2 separate regions of the Homo sapiens genome follow, and region 1 is linked to region 2. Evidence: fine-mapped expression QTL. Tissue or cell type: anterior cingulate cortex. Region 2 holds a variant in brackets; the other region holds the start of a gene. All regions are shown on one strand. Distances are between the middles of the regions.

Region 1 (5,825 bases), 41 kb before region 2:
GCCTTAGTTTCCTCATCTACAAGGAGAGGCTAAAGTACCTACCCCACCAGGCTGTTGGGAAGATTATGTGGTCCTGGCAAGGAGAGTGTGCAGTCCAGCATGGTTGTCACTCGCTTTTAGGAATGCAGGGAGCAGAATGCTCAGTACGCCCTGTTCCTGCCCACCTGGCCCTGGGCCCAAACCTTTCTAGGATGGATGGACCCAGCCTCTATGTCCCTGTGTGGGGAGTTGCCAATGCCCTAAGGAAGCAGCAGGGCCCCTACCATGGCCTGACCCTATAGCTGAAGTGGCTAGAGGGTTTTTATTTTTTTTATTTTTTGAGACAGAGTTTTGCTCTTGTTGCCCAGGCTGGAGTGCAATGGCGTGATCTTGGCCCACTGCAACCTCCACCTCCTGGGTTCAAGCAATTCCTCTGCCTCAGCCTCTGGAGTAGCTGGGATTACAGGCATGTGCTAATTTTTATATTATTAGTCCATGACCATGTTGGCCAGGCTAGTCTCAAACTCCTGACCTCAGGTGATCCACCCGCCTCGGCCTTCCAAAGCGCTGGGATTACAGGGGTGAGCCACCGCGCATGGCCTAAAGGGTCTTTTTATTATCACCACTTGATCTGCTCTATCTCATTTAGTCCTCACAACAACCCTATGAGGGGGGTTACTATTACTGTCCCCATTTGACAGATGAGGAAACCGAGCTGGAGAGGTTCATTGACTTGCTGAAGGTCACGCAGTTATAAGCTGTAGAGACAGCCCAGGTCTGTCTTACTCCAGGCCTGGTACTCTTGGTTCTGGTCCCCAAGAAGTTTAAGTCCCCATCCTTCCTGCATCCTGGTGACTCCCGATTCTCATACCCACTCCCTGCAGACCAAGGGAGCTACCAACATCATCTGCCCTTGCCGGATGGGCTTGACGTGCATATCCAAGGACTTGATGTGTTCCCGCCGGTGCCATATGATTTAGAGGAAGATGCAGGCTGGTCACTGCTCCCTTGGGGCCATAGGCCCTGGTTGCCACCAACTTGCTCCAAATCCAGCTCCTGAGACATTAAAGTCACTTCCTGTCCTTGGCCTCTGTCTGTACTTTCTGGGCGAGGGGACCTGGTGGAGATTGTACCAGTCCAGGGGGCAGGCAAAAGGGGAGACTGGAGGCATGAATGAGCTTCTAATGGGATTTGGCCCTGTCCGGAGGTCAGGGTAGAACTGCAGGAAGGGAATGGCACAGGGAGGGTGTGGTGGAGCAGGGGCTGGGTCTGGGAAAGGGCTGATTCTCTGGTTGGAGGGCTGTGTGGGAGAGACGGGATTGAGGAATGTACCTGGAGAGTGTATGTTGGGGTGCCTATGGAGGGGTGTGTGGTAGGGAGAGACTAGGTGGAGGTATCTGAATGTTTTGCGGGGCGGGTTGTGGGGCACAAAAGGGTAGAGATCATTAGAGAGTTGGTGAGAATGTGCAAAGTATAAATGCAGAAATGCCTGTGGTGGGAAAGGGACCTGGTGCATGGATGCCTCCGCTCTCTCAGGTATTGTCGGTTCACTGCATGGACAAAGAAACTGAGGCCCAGAGAAGCGACATGACTTGCCCTAGGTCATATCATTGGGGTAGCAGTGAGGCCTCTTTCTGCTGCAAGTATCTTAAAAACCAACTCAAATTGGTCTAGGTGAGGAGGGGATTTACTGGTGATGGGAAATGAAAGTCCAGAGGTCAGGCAACCCTTAGGTAGGGCCAGAGCCAGCAGCTCTCAGGCTGAATTCCTTCCCAGTAGTCACAAACATTCCAGGTGTCACCTAATAACAGGTAGGATTTATTGAGCACTTCCTATGTGCCAGACACTGTGCAAAGTGCTTTCTTTTTCATTTAATTAAAAAATTTAAGACAGCACCCAGGCTGGAGTGCAGTGGCTCGATCGCAGCGTACTGCAGCCTCAACCCCCTGGGCTCAAAAGATCCTCCCACGTCAGCCTCCCAAGTAACTGGGACTACAGGTGTGTGACACCATGCCCGGCCAATTTTTTTTCTTTTTCTTTTTCTTTTTTTTTTTTTAATAGAGACAGGGCCTCACTGTATTGCCCTGGCTGGTCTCAAACTCCTGGGCTCAAGTGATCCTCCTGCCTCAGCCTCCCAAAGTGCTGGGATTACAAGCATGAGCCACTGCGCCTGGCCCAAAGTGCTTTCTTAACTGTATTGACTCATCTTTTTGTCACAACAGGGCTATAGTAGGTGTTATAATTATCCCTATTTTACAAACAGGGTATCGAGGCTCCTAAAGTAAGGGTTGGAACTGAGACTTGAACCCAGACAATCCTGCCCCAGAGGCCAGGCTCTTAACCACAAATCCACCATGTACATCAATACTGTGCCTTTCAGAGAAAGAAAACATCTCTGTTCCACAATTTTCAGCAAACATCCTAAGATCGGTTCTGATTGGATTGGCTTAGTCTGCCTGAACTAATTATTGTGGTGGAATTTGCTGATTGGCCTAGCCTGAGTATTGTGCAGGATGGGAAAATTCTGACGGGGTTGGGTGCTGGTTTTACATGGTGTTCCCACAGCTGGGAGGACACCCACATGGTCGGCGTGCAGGATATTTCGCTGGACCCTAGAAAAGCCACCACGACCTGTGGGCCATGATGCTACCCCAATGGCTGCTGCTGCTGTTCCTTCTCTTCTTCTTTCTCTTCCTCCTCACCAGGGGCTCACTTTCTCCAACAAAATACAACCTTTTGGTAAGAAAGCTGGAGAGTGCAGTCACCTCCCCCTCCACTGTCCTAAGGCCTGTACTATTTGGGGAGGTGAGCGGGCATGGGGGCTAGTGTGGGAGAAGGCCAGAAGTGGGGGCAGCAGGGAGTGTTGGGTGGAAGATGTCTCGGAGGAAAGAGAGAACAACCTGGTCCTGGAAGCTGTGCCAGGGCAGTGCCAGGTGCTGCTGCCACAGAGGTGAATGTGAGAGAGCCCCCCTGCCCATGCGCACATGTGGTAAGGGAGACAGATATTCACTCATGCAACACATTTTTATTGAGCACCTACTATATGTAAATTATTTTTCTACATTTAGTGATAGGGCTGTGAGCAAGAAAGATAAAAATCCTTGCCCTTGTAGAGCTGTCACTCTAGTGTGTGAGGCAAAGAAGTAAAACATTACAATAGATGCTATTAATAATAGCATCTATCTCAGGTGATAAGCAAGGAAAGGGAAAATAAGAATCGAGCTGTGGGAGTGGTGGTGTGAGAAGGGTTTGCAGGTGTTTTTTTTTTTTTTCTTTTTCTTTTTCTTTTTTTTGGGACAGAGTCTTGCTTTGTCACCCAGGCTGGAGTGCAGTGGGGCAATCTCGGCTCACTGCAAACTTAGCCTCCTGAGTTCAAGCGATTCCCCTGCCTCAGCCTCCCGAGTAGCTGAGATTACAGGCACCCACTGCCACGCCCAGCTAATTTTTTTTTCTGTATTTTTAGTAGAGACAGGGTTTCACCGTATTGGTCAGGCTGGTCTTGAACTCCTGACCTCAAGCAATCCACCCGCCTTGGCCTCCCAAAGTGCTAGGATTACAGGCGTAAGCCACCGCACCTGGCCAGGGTTTGCAGTTTTAAATGGGGTGCTCAGGGAAGAGTTTACTAAGAATGTGAAATTTTAGCAAAGACCTAAAGGGAGGGAAGTCCTTCCTAACCGGCAAAGCAGGGGGGTCTCTGGGAGAAGAGCATTCAAGGTGGAGGGAACAGCCAGGGCAAAGGTCTGGGGGCGGAAATGTGCTGGCATATTCAAGGAATAGCAAAGAGGAGTAAGAGAGAGTGGAAATCATGGGAGATGAGCTCAGAGAGATAAATGGAACACAGTTACAATATTCTCATTTATTCAACAGTTATGCATTCAGCACCTGCAATGTGTAAGGACTTTAGTCCAAGGGGGCTAAGAAATATAGCAGTGAACGTGAGAGCAGAAGATCCATGTCCCAGAGCTGAGGTTGCTAGCGGGGGAAATAAATTATTTTTAAACATATAAATAAGATGATTTCAGAGAGTCATAAGTGTTGTGAACAAAGTACAACCAGGTGATGGGGACTGCTCTGCTGGTGTCCAGGAAGTCTTCAGCCTGAGGCAGGAGGGGGAGGCAGCCGGGCAAAGAGTGCAGGACAGGGTGCTCTGGGCAGAGGGCCAGCAAGCGCAAATGCCCTGGGGCCAGGCCAGGTGTGGATTCAGAGCCCCAGTGATGGCTTTGAATCCAGAGAATGGCATTGTGGGAATTATCTTTTAAAAAAGACTCCTCTAGCTATTCTGGGAAGAACTGACTTGAGGAGGTTGGGGAGGTGGAAGTGAGAGTGGGGATGGTGAGGGGGTACCTGGGGGAGGTCACTGGCAAGGATGGAAGCAGGGAGGCCGGGAGGCGGCTATAGCCAATCCTCCTTTCCTGCCTTATTTTCTTTATAGCACATAATCGTACATAATAGGATTATACATATATAATATAAATATTACTTATTGTTATGTATATAACATATGTGGTAAAAATCACACCTTACTAGGTGCTCAGATCTTGAGTTTACATGGAAATCAATGGATTCGAACCTATGCAGACCCCCTCATCACTACCGTCAGAACAAGATATAGGACATTTTCATTACCCCAAAAGCCTCACTCTTACTCTCCTAGTCAATAGCACCAAAGGCAACTGTCTCCTGACTTCCATTATTATAGATTAGTTTTGAACTTTGTATGATGAAATCACACAGTATGTACTTTTAAAAAAAAATTTGGGCCAGGCGCAGTGGCTCACGCCTGTAATCCTAACACTTTGGAAGGCCGAGGCAAGTGGATCACCTGACGTCAAGAGTTCGAGAACAGCCTGACCAACATGGTGAAAGCCCATCTCTACTAAAAATACAAAATTAGCTGGGTGTGGTGGCACATGCCTATAATCCCAGCTACTTGGGAGGCTGAGGCAGGAGAATTGCTTGAACCCGGGAGGCAGAGGTTGAACTAAGCCAAGAAAGTGCCATTGCACTCCAGCCTGGGCAGTAGAGTGAGACTTTGTCTCAAAAAAAAAAAGGGGGGCTGGGCGCGGTGGCTCATGCCTGTAATCCCAGCATTTTGGGAGGCCGAGGCAGGCAGATCACGAGGTCAGGAGATCAAGACCATCCTGGCTAACACAGTGAAACCCTGTCTCTACTAAAAATACAAAAAAAATTAGCTGTGCGTGGTGGCGGGTGCCTGTAATCCCAGCTACTCAGGAGGCTGAGGCAGGAGAATGGCGTGAACCTGGGAGGCACAGCTTGCAGTGAGCCGAGATCGCACCACTGCATTCCAGCCTGGGCGACGGCGAGACTCTATCTCCAAAAAAAAAAAAAAAAAAAAATCTGACTTATTTTGCTCAACGTTTTTTCTGTGATACCGTATCATTTCACTTATGTATCTCTTCCCTGTCTTCCCTCTCTAGAGCTGTGTGTGTCCAATAGTGCAGTTACTAGTGTGAACCCAAAATATCTGAGACAGGTCTCAGTCAATTTAGAAAGTTTATTTTGCCAAGGTTAGGGACACACCTGTGATACAGCCTCAGGTGGCTGGGGTGCACCTTGCTTTTTTTTTGTTTTTTGTTTTTTGGGGTATAGCTTGCTTTTATACACATTGGGGAGACATAATATGTCAGTCAGTACCTGTAAGATTTACATTCGTTTGATCTGGAAGGGTGGGACAACTTGAAGTGGGGGGCATGACTTCCATTCCAGGTCATAGGTAGATTTAAACAAATTCTGATTGGCAGTTGGTTGAACAGCTATTATCAGCAGAAGGGAATGTCTGGGTTAAGATAAGGGGTTGAGGAGAGCAAGGTTTTATCATGCAGATG
Region 2 (10,093 bases):
GTGGTGGGCACCTGTAGTTCCAGCTACTCAGGAGGCTGAGGCATGAGAATGGTGTGAACCTGGGAGGCAGAGCTTGCAGTGAGCCAAGACTGTGCCCCTGCACTCTAGCCTGGGCAACAGAGCGAGACTCAATCTAAAAAAAAAAATCTTAAAAGAAAAAAATAGATAAATCAGCTTTCATTAAAATTTAAATTTTTTTTTGTTTCAAAAGACACCATCAAGAAAGTAAAAGGACAGCCCACAGAATGGAAGAAAATATTTGCAAATTATAATTGGATAAGATCTAGAATCCAGAATATATTAAGAACTCCTATAACTCAACAATGAAAAGACAGACTACCCAATGCTTAAAATGGGCAAGGGATTTGAATAGAGATTTCTCCAAAGAAGATATACAAATGGCCAATTAGCACACCAAAAGATGCTCAACATCATTAGTCATTGTAAAAATGCCAATCAAATCCACATTGAGATACAATTTCACACCCACTAAGATGATTATAATAAAAAAGGTGAATAATAACAAGTGTTGGTGAGCAAGTGGAGAAATTGGAACCCTCATTCACTACTAATGCAAATCTTTTGCAACTGCTGCAGAAAGCAGCCTGGCAGTTCCTCAAATGGTTAATCATAGAGTTACTATATGACCCAGTAATTCCACTATTGGGTGTACACACAAGAAAATTAAAAACAAATGTTCACACAAAAACTTATACACAAATGTTCATGGCAGCATAATAGCCAAAAAATGGAATACAATTCAGTGGTTTTTAGTATATTCCATCTCCTGATGAACAGATAAACAAAATGTGTATATCCATGCAATGAAATATTATCCAGCCATAAAAAGGAATGAAGTAGTAAGCATTGCTACCATGTGGATGAACCTTGAAAACATGTTAAATGAAAGGAACCAGACACAAAAGACTGGTTTCCATTTGTATATCTGTGATTCAATTTCTATAAAATATTCAAAATAGACAAATCCATAGAAACAGAAAGCAGATTAGGAGGTGGCTAGGAAGGAGGGGAAACAAGAGTGATTGCTAATGGGCACAGGGTTTCTTTTTGGGGTGATGAAAATGTTTTAGAATTAGTGATGATAGTTGCACAATCTAGTGAATATACTAAAAGCCATATATATATATATATATATATATATATGTATTTTTTTTTTTTTTTTTTTTTTTTTGAGACAGATTCTGGCTCTGTCACCCAGGCTGGAGTGCAGTGGCATGATCTCAGCTCACTGCAACCTTCACCTCCTGGGCTCAAGTGATCCTCCCATATTAGCCTCCCAAATAGCTAGGACTACAGGCCCATACCACCACACTTGGCTTTTTAAAAAAATTTTTTTTGTAGAGACGGGGTTCCACCATGTTGACCAGGCTGGTCTCAGAATCCTGGTGTGCACCTCAGCCTCCCAAAGTGTTGGGATTATAGGTGTGAGCCACTGCATCCAGCTTGTTAGTGAATTATATTAATTAAAAAAAAAAGGAAGTGCTGAGGATCTCATAGCATATATAAAGCACTAACAATGCCTGCACATTGCAAGTGATTAATAAATTAGTTCTCCCTTTTTTTTTTTGATGCCACAGTAGCAGATCTGATAGTTCTTTCTCCTTTCTGTCTTTCCAGCATATTCACTATTTTTTTTCCTTTGAGACAAAGTCTTGCCCCGTCATCACCCGGGCTGGAGTGCAGTGGCGTGATCTGGGGTCACTGCAACCTCCGCCTCTCATTTTCAAGCGATTCTCCTGCCTCAGCCTCCCAAACAGTTGGGATTACAGGCATGTGCCACCACACCTGGCTAATTTTTTGTATTTTTAGTAGAGACAGGGTTTCACCTTGTTGGCCAGACTGGTCTCGAACTCCTGGCCTCAAGTGATCCACCTTCCTCAGCCTCCCAAAGTGCTGGGATTATGGGTGTGAGCCACTGCATCGGGCCATATTCATTTTTTATATCACCCATCTGCCCAACCAATAACAGCTAATGTGCTTCAGCTGCCTAACAATGCCTTTAGGCACTGGAAGTACAGTGGTTAAGGGAAATCTAAGTTGGAGCTTATGGTCTGGTAAGGGAGACAATCATGCGATACAGTTACAAGCTGATAAATGATATGAACAAAAAAGTGCAAGCTTTCTTGAGAGTAAGAGGAATCTGATGTAGTTTGGAGATGGAGTAGTGTGCAGGAAATTATCCTAAAAACGAGACTTGGTAGTAACGTATACTGTTCTCTCCTTCATTACAGAGGAGGTGTGAAGCAGCTGAAGGGTCGGTGAGTAATTCTATGGGAGGGTGGTCTGCGTGCCCTTAGAAAGGCTGGGGCTCTCTGCTTCCTTACTGAATCCTCAGGCATCAGGACACCAGGGGCTGGGCTGTAAGGCTGTGATGCTGCTTGGGGAGAGAGGACCAACACCCCACTGGGGCAGGAGCTATTTGGCCTCTGAGACCCTCACTGGGGAGCAAACAGGAAGCCTTTAGTTTTACCTGTGTCTTTTTTTTTTTTGAGATGGAATTTCGCTCTTGTTGCCCA[A/G]GCTGGAGTGCAATGGTGCGATCTCGGCTCACTGCAACCTCCACCTCCTGGGTTCAAGCCATTCTCCTGCCTCAGCCTCCCGAGTAGCTGGGATTACAGGTGCGTGCCACCATGCCTGGCTAATTTTTTGTATTTTTAGTAGAAGCGGGGTTTCACCGTGTTAGCCAGGATGGTCTCCATCTCCTGACCTCAGGTGATCTGCCTGCCCCTGCCTCCCAAAGTGCTGGGATTACAGGTGTGAGCCCACGCGCCTGGCCTTACTTGTGTCTTGAAAGGCGGAAAAAGATCAGGGAAAGAAGAAATAATTTCAAACACAAATTCATGTTTTATGGAGCCTGGCACACAAGAACAGACTGTTTTTAGAAGTCATTATTGTAATTTGGACCCTTATTTTCAGAAAGAATTTTTAAGTGATTTGTAAGAAACATACTAGAAAACCTAATAAAATAGAAAATAAAAGTCATAGACAGAAAAACAAATATTCAAAAAAGCTATACTAATAGTATTACTGTCTTGAGTATTAAATTTAGCTCTGATTCCTCATAGCCGAGGCAAAAAGAAAAACAGTAAGTTAACCAGTTTTAATGTCTGGTTTAAAAAGAAGCGCAACATATTCATTTATCTTTTAAGTTTCCAAACATTTGTTAAATGTGATTTAACAAGAACATTCAGGAATGCATTTAAAAAAGAAAAAGAGGACCGGGCGCGGTGACTCACGCCTGTAATCCCAGCACTTTGGGAGGCTGAGGTGGGCGGATCACGAGGTCAGGAGATCGAGACCATCCTGGCTAACATGGTGAAACCCCGTCTCTACTAAAAATACAAAAAATTAGCCAGGTGTGGTGGTGGGCACCTGTAGTCCCAGCTACTTGGGAGGCTGAGGCAGGAGAATGGTGTGAACCCAGGAGGCGGAGCTTGCAGTGAGCTGAGATCGTGCCACTGCACTCCAGCTTGGGCGACAAAGCGAGACTCCATCTCAAAATAAATAAATAAATAAATAAAATAGAATAAAATAAAATTAAAAAAATAAAAAAGAAAAAGAAACCCTCACAACAGTGTTGCCTCCCTAACAGCTGCCTGGAGGACCTACAGCCGACCAGGCGCTTTCTGTGGGAAGGAGGGTTTAGCTCCATTTAAGCTGTTTTTATTTTTGCAAAGTGCCTTCCAATCCTTGACCACATATACTTTAAAAATAATCATACATAAAATTGTCACCTCCACCTCCTGCACTTATTAGAGCATGATTCTCAAACTTCAGCGTGCATACAGTCATCTGGGGATCTTGTTAAAATGCAGATTCTGCTGGGTGCAGTGGCTCATGCCTGTAATCCCAGCACTTTGGGAGACTGAGGCAGGCAGATCACCTGAGGTCAGGAGTTAGAGACCAGCCTGGCCAACATTGGGAAACCCCATCTCTACCAAAAATACAAAAATTAGCTGGGTGTGGTGGCATGCACCTGTAATCCCAGCTACTCAGGAGGCTGAGGCAGGAGAATCGCTTGAACCCAGGAGGCGGCGGTTGCCATGAACTGAGATCCCATCACTGGACTCCAGCCTGGGAGAGAGAGCAAGACTGAGTCTCAAAAAAAAAAAAAAAAATGCAGATTCTGATTCAGTTGGTGGGGTGGGTCTGGGGCCGTAGACCCTGCATTTCTAATGAGTTTTTGGGTGACAGGCTGCTCAAACAGGAATCACATTTTGCATAAAAAAGCATTAGAGCATAATCTTTGTGTGTGTGTGTGTGTGTGTGTGTGTGTGTGTGTGTGTGTGTGTTCTTGACACGGAGTTTCAGTCTTGTTGCCCAGGCTGGAGTGCAATGACATGATCTTGGCTCATGGCAACCTCCGCCTCCTGGGTTCAAGCCATTCTCCTGCCACAGCCTCCCAAGTAGCTGGGATTATAGGCATGCGCCACCACACCCGGCTAATTTTGTATTTTTAGTAGAGACGGGGTTTCTCCATGTTGGTCATGCTGGTCTCGAACTCCCGACCTCAGGTGATCCTCCCGCCTCAGCCTCCAGAAGTGCTGGGATTACAGGCATGAGCCACCGTGCTCGGCTCCCTTTTTTATGTTTTTGCAATATTTTTAATTTAGGTTTTTCAAAGCCAGAAACTCCACAGCACTGGTGTACCACAATTTTTTTTTTTTTTTTTTTTTTTTTTTTTTTTTTGAGACAGGGTCTTGCTCTGTTGCCTAGCCTGGAGTGCAGTGGCACAATCACAGCTCATTGAAGCCTCAACTTCCTGATGCTCAAGTCATCCTTCCACCTTAGCTTCCTGAATAGCTGGGACTACAGGCACATACCTCCTGCCCAGCTATAATAATTTTGTTTTTTTTGTTTGTTTGTTGAAGAAACGATGTTTTGTCATGTTGTCCAGGATGTTCTCGAACTCCTGGGTTCAAGTCATCCTCCTGCCTTAGCCTCCCAAAGTGTTGAGATTACAGGCATGAGCCACTGCGCCTGCCTGGTGTACCATTTTTTAAACCAGACCTTGGTTATTAGACATTTAGGGTTGCTATCATAGATAACAAAACTTTTTGCTTCTGTTGATAATATCCCAAGTGGCATTACTGAATCAAAGGGCAACCACACCTCTCTGTTTGCCTTTTTTTTCCTCACACTACATTTTAAAAGACCTAAGTTTTTACTTGAATGACAATCAGTACTATCTTACACATGAATGAGGAAATTTGCATGTCTAGGTAGAACTGAAGTCAAAATTTGAGCATACATAGGGAAGTGTTTATTATTTATTTTTGATACATAGTTTTTTTGTTTTGTTTTGTTTTTTGTAATTTATTTTGAGATAGCATCTCGCTCTGTCGTCCAGGCTGGAGTGCAATGGTCTGATCTCGGCTCACTGCAACCTCTGCCTCCCAGGTTCAAGTGATCCTCCTGCCTCAGCCTCCCAAGTAGCTAGGACTACAGGCACGTGCCACCACGCCTGGCTAATTTTTTGTATTTTTAGGAGGGACAGGATGGTGTTGATCTCCTGATCTCGTGATCCGCCCGCCTTGGCCTCCCAAAGTGTTGGGATTACAGGTGTGAGCCCAATTTTGGTATTTTTAGTAGAGACAGGGTTTCACCATGTTGGCCAGGCTGGCCTCGAACTCCTGACCTCAAGTGATCCACCCGGCTTGGCCTCCCAAAGTGCTGGGATTACAGGCGTGAACCACTGCACCCAGCCTATATTGGTTTTTAAAATGTCAGATTTTAAACTCTTGGAATCTTTTGTTCTTTTGTTTTTCTTATACCACAGGTCATCTATTTCCCAGACACAGGAAAACTAGGGAATCAAATTCTTCAGAGATAAGAACTTGTTCTTCCAAGTTTCCTTGTTCCTGGCTACTATAGGCCTGAAGCCTGAAGCCTTTTATTATAACACTAAAACTGGACAGTCTCCTGAGACAAGACCTCCTACTGTACTCTTTCTGGGGAAGCAGAACTGCAGTGACCCACTTCAAAGATATTCAGAGGCTGAGCGGTGCAGGGAGTGCTCAGTTGCTGGGGATGGGATCCAAGTCCATTTCTTAGTTCCACACAGCAGCAAATCGCTTCACCTTCTTGAAGCCTCTCCTCTGTAAAGCGAGAGGGCTAAATGGGTCCATCTCTAGGGGCCTTCCCTCCCAGGTCTGTGTCTGATAGCATACACACACACATATATATACACACACACACACACACACACACACACACACACACATACATACACACACACATATATATACACACACACACACACACACACACACACACTCTCTCTCTCTCTCAAACACACACAAATGCCCAACCAGCTCTAAGAGGGCACTGAAGAGGTGGCTGGACATGTGCTGGGTCATTTTTAGGGTGAGGTGTAGGGGGTCTTTTGCTTCTCCCTTCTCATATTTTGTTTTCTTATTGCTGCTCAGAGGGGGGTAAGGAATGGAGGGGCCATCAGAACTTGAATCCTTTAACATCCACCAGGAAGTTTTATGAAGAGTGGGTGATAGGATCTAAAATCTCTGCAGACTTTTTTCCTCCCGGGAGCCAAATATCACATTTCCTTATGGTGCCCACACTGACTCAACCAGAACTGGCTACCAGCTTCAGAAATGTGTTACTTATGTTCAAGTAATTTGTTATAGGAATAGATGACATTTTTTTTTTTCAAAAACTTTGGATTTGGCATATAGTCATCTATAGGGGGATTGGTTCCAGGATCCCCTGCAGATGCCAAAATACATGGATGCCCAAGTCCTCAGCTAAAAATAGCGTAGTATTTGCATATAACCTATGCACATCCTCCTGTATACTTTAAATCATCTCTAGATTACTTATAATACCTAATACAATGTAAATGCTATGTAAATACTCGTACTGTGTGGCTTTTAATTTGTATTTGTTGTTGTATTGTTATTTATTTTTGAGACAGAGTCTCGCTTTCTTGCCGAGGCTGGAGTGCAAAGGTGCCATCTCAGCTCACTGCAACCTCTGCCTCCCAAGTTCAAGAGATTCTCCTGTCTCAGCCTCCTGAATAGCTGGGATTACAGGCATGTGCCACCATGCCTGGCTAATTTATTTATTTGTTTATTTATTTATTTTTGAGACGGAGTCTCATCCTGTTGCCCAGGCTGGAGTGCAGTGGCATGATCTCAGCTCACTGCAACCTCCGCCTCCCGGGTTCAAGCAATTCTCCTGCCTCAGCCTCCCGAGTAGCTGGGATTACAGGTGCCCGCCACCACGCCTGGCTAATTTTTGTATTTTTAGTAGATATGGGGTTTCACCATGTTGGCCAGGCTGGTCTGGAACTGATCTGCTTGTGTCGGCTTCCCAAAGTGCTGGGATTACAGGTGTGAGCCACCGTGCCCGGCCTGTATTGTTATTCTTTACTGGCTTTTCTTCCTGAATATTTTACATCTGTGGTTGATTGAATCTGCTTAGTGGAACCCACAGATACGGAGGACCAGCTACTAAATGGTGAACCTTCAGTTGGCCTCCAAAGGGGAATTCAATTTAGGTAATAGTTCATTGTAGCAAAAGCCAAGACCAAAATCGATTCTTTAGGCTGTCCCCTCCCTGGGGGGTGGTGCATAAAAACAGGATTTTGTTGATTGTCTGCAGTGAACAATTCTGAGGAAAAGGTGTTTTTTCTGGTCCTTGTCCAGTTAGTTAGTAAAGAAACTACCTGGGTGTGCTGTTCTCTCATAGGGGAAGTGTGGGTAAAGAGCTGAACAGATGAATCTTGTTGCTTGATCAACCGATCAGTGATACAGGAACAGTTTTCCTATCTTTGGCTGTCAGCTGTGTGTTTGGCCAATGCACTGTGACAACCTGCTCAGTCACTAGGAATGAGTATCCCAGTGTTGTCACAGTTAAATTGGTGGTGGGAACTTCCATAATGGGATTTGATCTTGTCACTTGGTCCATGGCAGCTAGTTTATGAGAATGATCACATTTGTGTGTATATATATATATTTATATTTATATATATTTTTTGAGACGAAATCTTGCTCTTGTTGCCCAGGCTGGAGTGCAATGGCGCGATCTTGGCTCGCTGCAACCTCTGCCTCCCAGGTTTAAACGATTCTCCTGTCTCAGCCTCCCGAGTAGCTGGGATTATAGGCGTGTGCCACCACATCCGGCTAATTTTGTATTTTTTTTTTTTTTTTTTTTTTTGAGACAGAGTGTCGCTCTGTCACCTAGGCTGGAGTGCAGTGGTGCGATCTTGGCTCACCGCAAGCTCCGCCTCCCGGGTTCATGCCATTCTCCTGCCTCAGCCTCCCAAGTAGCTGGGACTACAGGCGCCCGCCACCACACCTGGCTAATTTTTTGTATTTTTAGTAGAGATGGGGTTTCACTGTGTTAGCCAGGATGGTCTTGATCTCCTGACCTCGTGATCCGCCCACCTCAGCCTCCCAAAGTTCTGGGATTACAGGCGTGAGCCAACACGCCCAGGCTGTATATATGTTTTGAGTGCAGTGGCGTGAAAACGGCTCACTGAAGCCTCGGCTTCCTCAGCTCAAGCAATCCTCCTGCCTTTAGCTTCCCAAGTAGCCAGGACCACAGGTGTGTACCACCACATCCGCCTAATCTTTAATTTTTGTAGACACAGGGTATCATCATGTTGCCCAGCCTGGACATTCATATTTTCTTTTGTTGATAAAATTAATTCACAGTCGGCCAGGCACGGTGGCTCACGCCTGTAATCCCAGCACTTTGGGAAGCCAAGGTGGGCAGATCACCTGAGGTTGGGAGTTTGTGACCAGCCTGACCAACATGGTGAAACCCCGTTTCTACTAAAAATAAAAAATTAGCCGGGCGTGGTGGCACATGCCTGTATTCCCAGCTACTCGGGAGGCTGAGGCAGGGGAATGGCTTGAACCTGGGAGGCGGAAGTTGCAGTGAGCCGAGATCGTGCCATTGCTCTCCAGCCTGGGCAGCAAGAGTGAAACTCCGTGTCAAAAAAAAAAATTAATTAATTAATTAATTAATTAATTCAGTCAGTATCTACTTTATGCAAGCTTGATGAATGACAAAATTTGACAAATTCTGTAGCTTAGTGACTTTTCTATCATTTATCTCATAATTTACTTTTTGAAGAGGTACAAAAAAAATTTCCAGAAGTCTATCCTTGGCCAGGCGTAGTGGCTCACGCCTGTAATCCCAGCACTTTGGGAGGCTGAGGTGGGAGGATCACTTGAGGCCAGGAGTTCAAGACTAGCATGGGCAACATGGCAAAAACCCATCTCTATAAAAATTACAAAAATTAGCTGGGTATGGTGGCGCATGCCTGTAATCCCGGCTACTTGGGAGGCTGAGGTGGGAGGATCACTTGAGCCTGGGAGGTTGAAGCTGCAGTGAGCCATGATTGCACCACTGCACTCCAGCCTGGGCAACAAAGCAAGACTCTGTCTCAAAAAAAAAAAAGTCTATTCTCAAAATATTTCACTGAAATGGCAACTTTAGTGGTCTGCAGAAGCTGCTAGGGGCTTAAGGTGCATCTGCCTATAACCCACACCTTGCTCAGCTACTCGGGAGGCAGAGGCAGGACAATTGCTTGAATCTGGGAGGCAGAGGTTGCAGTGAGCCGAGATTGTGCCACTGCACTCCAGCCTGGGTGACAGAGCGAGACTCCGTCTCAAAAATAAATAAATAAATAAATAAATAAATAAAACAAAAAAACAAACAAAAATCAGTAATGTCAGCACTCCTTTTATGAAGTCAACCTTATTCTTTTCTCACTCTGGCTTGCCTCTCTCTGCTTTGGGCTGTTCTGTAGAGTCAGTTATGGTGCTCGAGCTTCACTGACAGCCCTGAGTAGATATGGTCAAAATAGGAAGGGCCAGTCATTTATAGGTGAAATGTGAACCTGAAGAATATCCTCAGTGCTCATGACCTGACAATCCTGTTACCTACTGCTGCTTAACAAATTACTCCAGAATGCAGTGGCTTAAAACAACATACATATCTCAGTTTCTGTGGATTAGGAATCCTGACAAGGTTTAGCTAAGTGTTTTTGCCTCAAGGTTTCTCACAAGCTGCAATTGTGTTGGATCCACTTCCAAGCTCAGTGGTG

Evidence for each region. PIP is the estimated chance that this variant, and not a neighbour inherited with it, causes the effect.
Region 1: it holds the start of CLPSL1, and the variant in region 2 is the best candidate, but not a certain one, in a credible set for the expression of CLPSL1 in anterior cingulate cortex (GTEx, PIP 0.64).

Annotation. Positions count from the first base shown.
Region 1 is chr6:35,778,492-35,784,316 of GRCh38, forward strand. CLPSL1 (colipase like 1) reads left to right here and starts at 2,528. Exons shown (of 3, transcript NM_001010886.5): 1 at 2,528-2,718. The coding sequence starts at 2,620. CLPSL2 (colipase like 2) reads left to right here. Exons shown (of 3, transcript NM_207409.4): 3 at 864-1,061. The coding sequence ends at 959. RefSeq lists an enhancer at 3,639-4,140.
Region 2 is chr6:35,817,185-35,827,277 of GRCh38, forward strand. It overlaps LHFPL5 (LHFPL tetraspan subfamily member 5), which reads left to right. Exons shown (of 4, transcript NM_182548.4): 3 at 2,253-2,279; 4 at 5,798-6,886. The coding sequence ends at 2,263. Among named protein-coding and RNA genes, the nearest start is that of LHFPL5, 17 kb to the left of the region's middle. The variant A/G (reference allele first, on the strand shown) is at 2,538.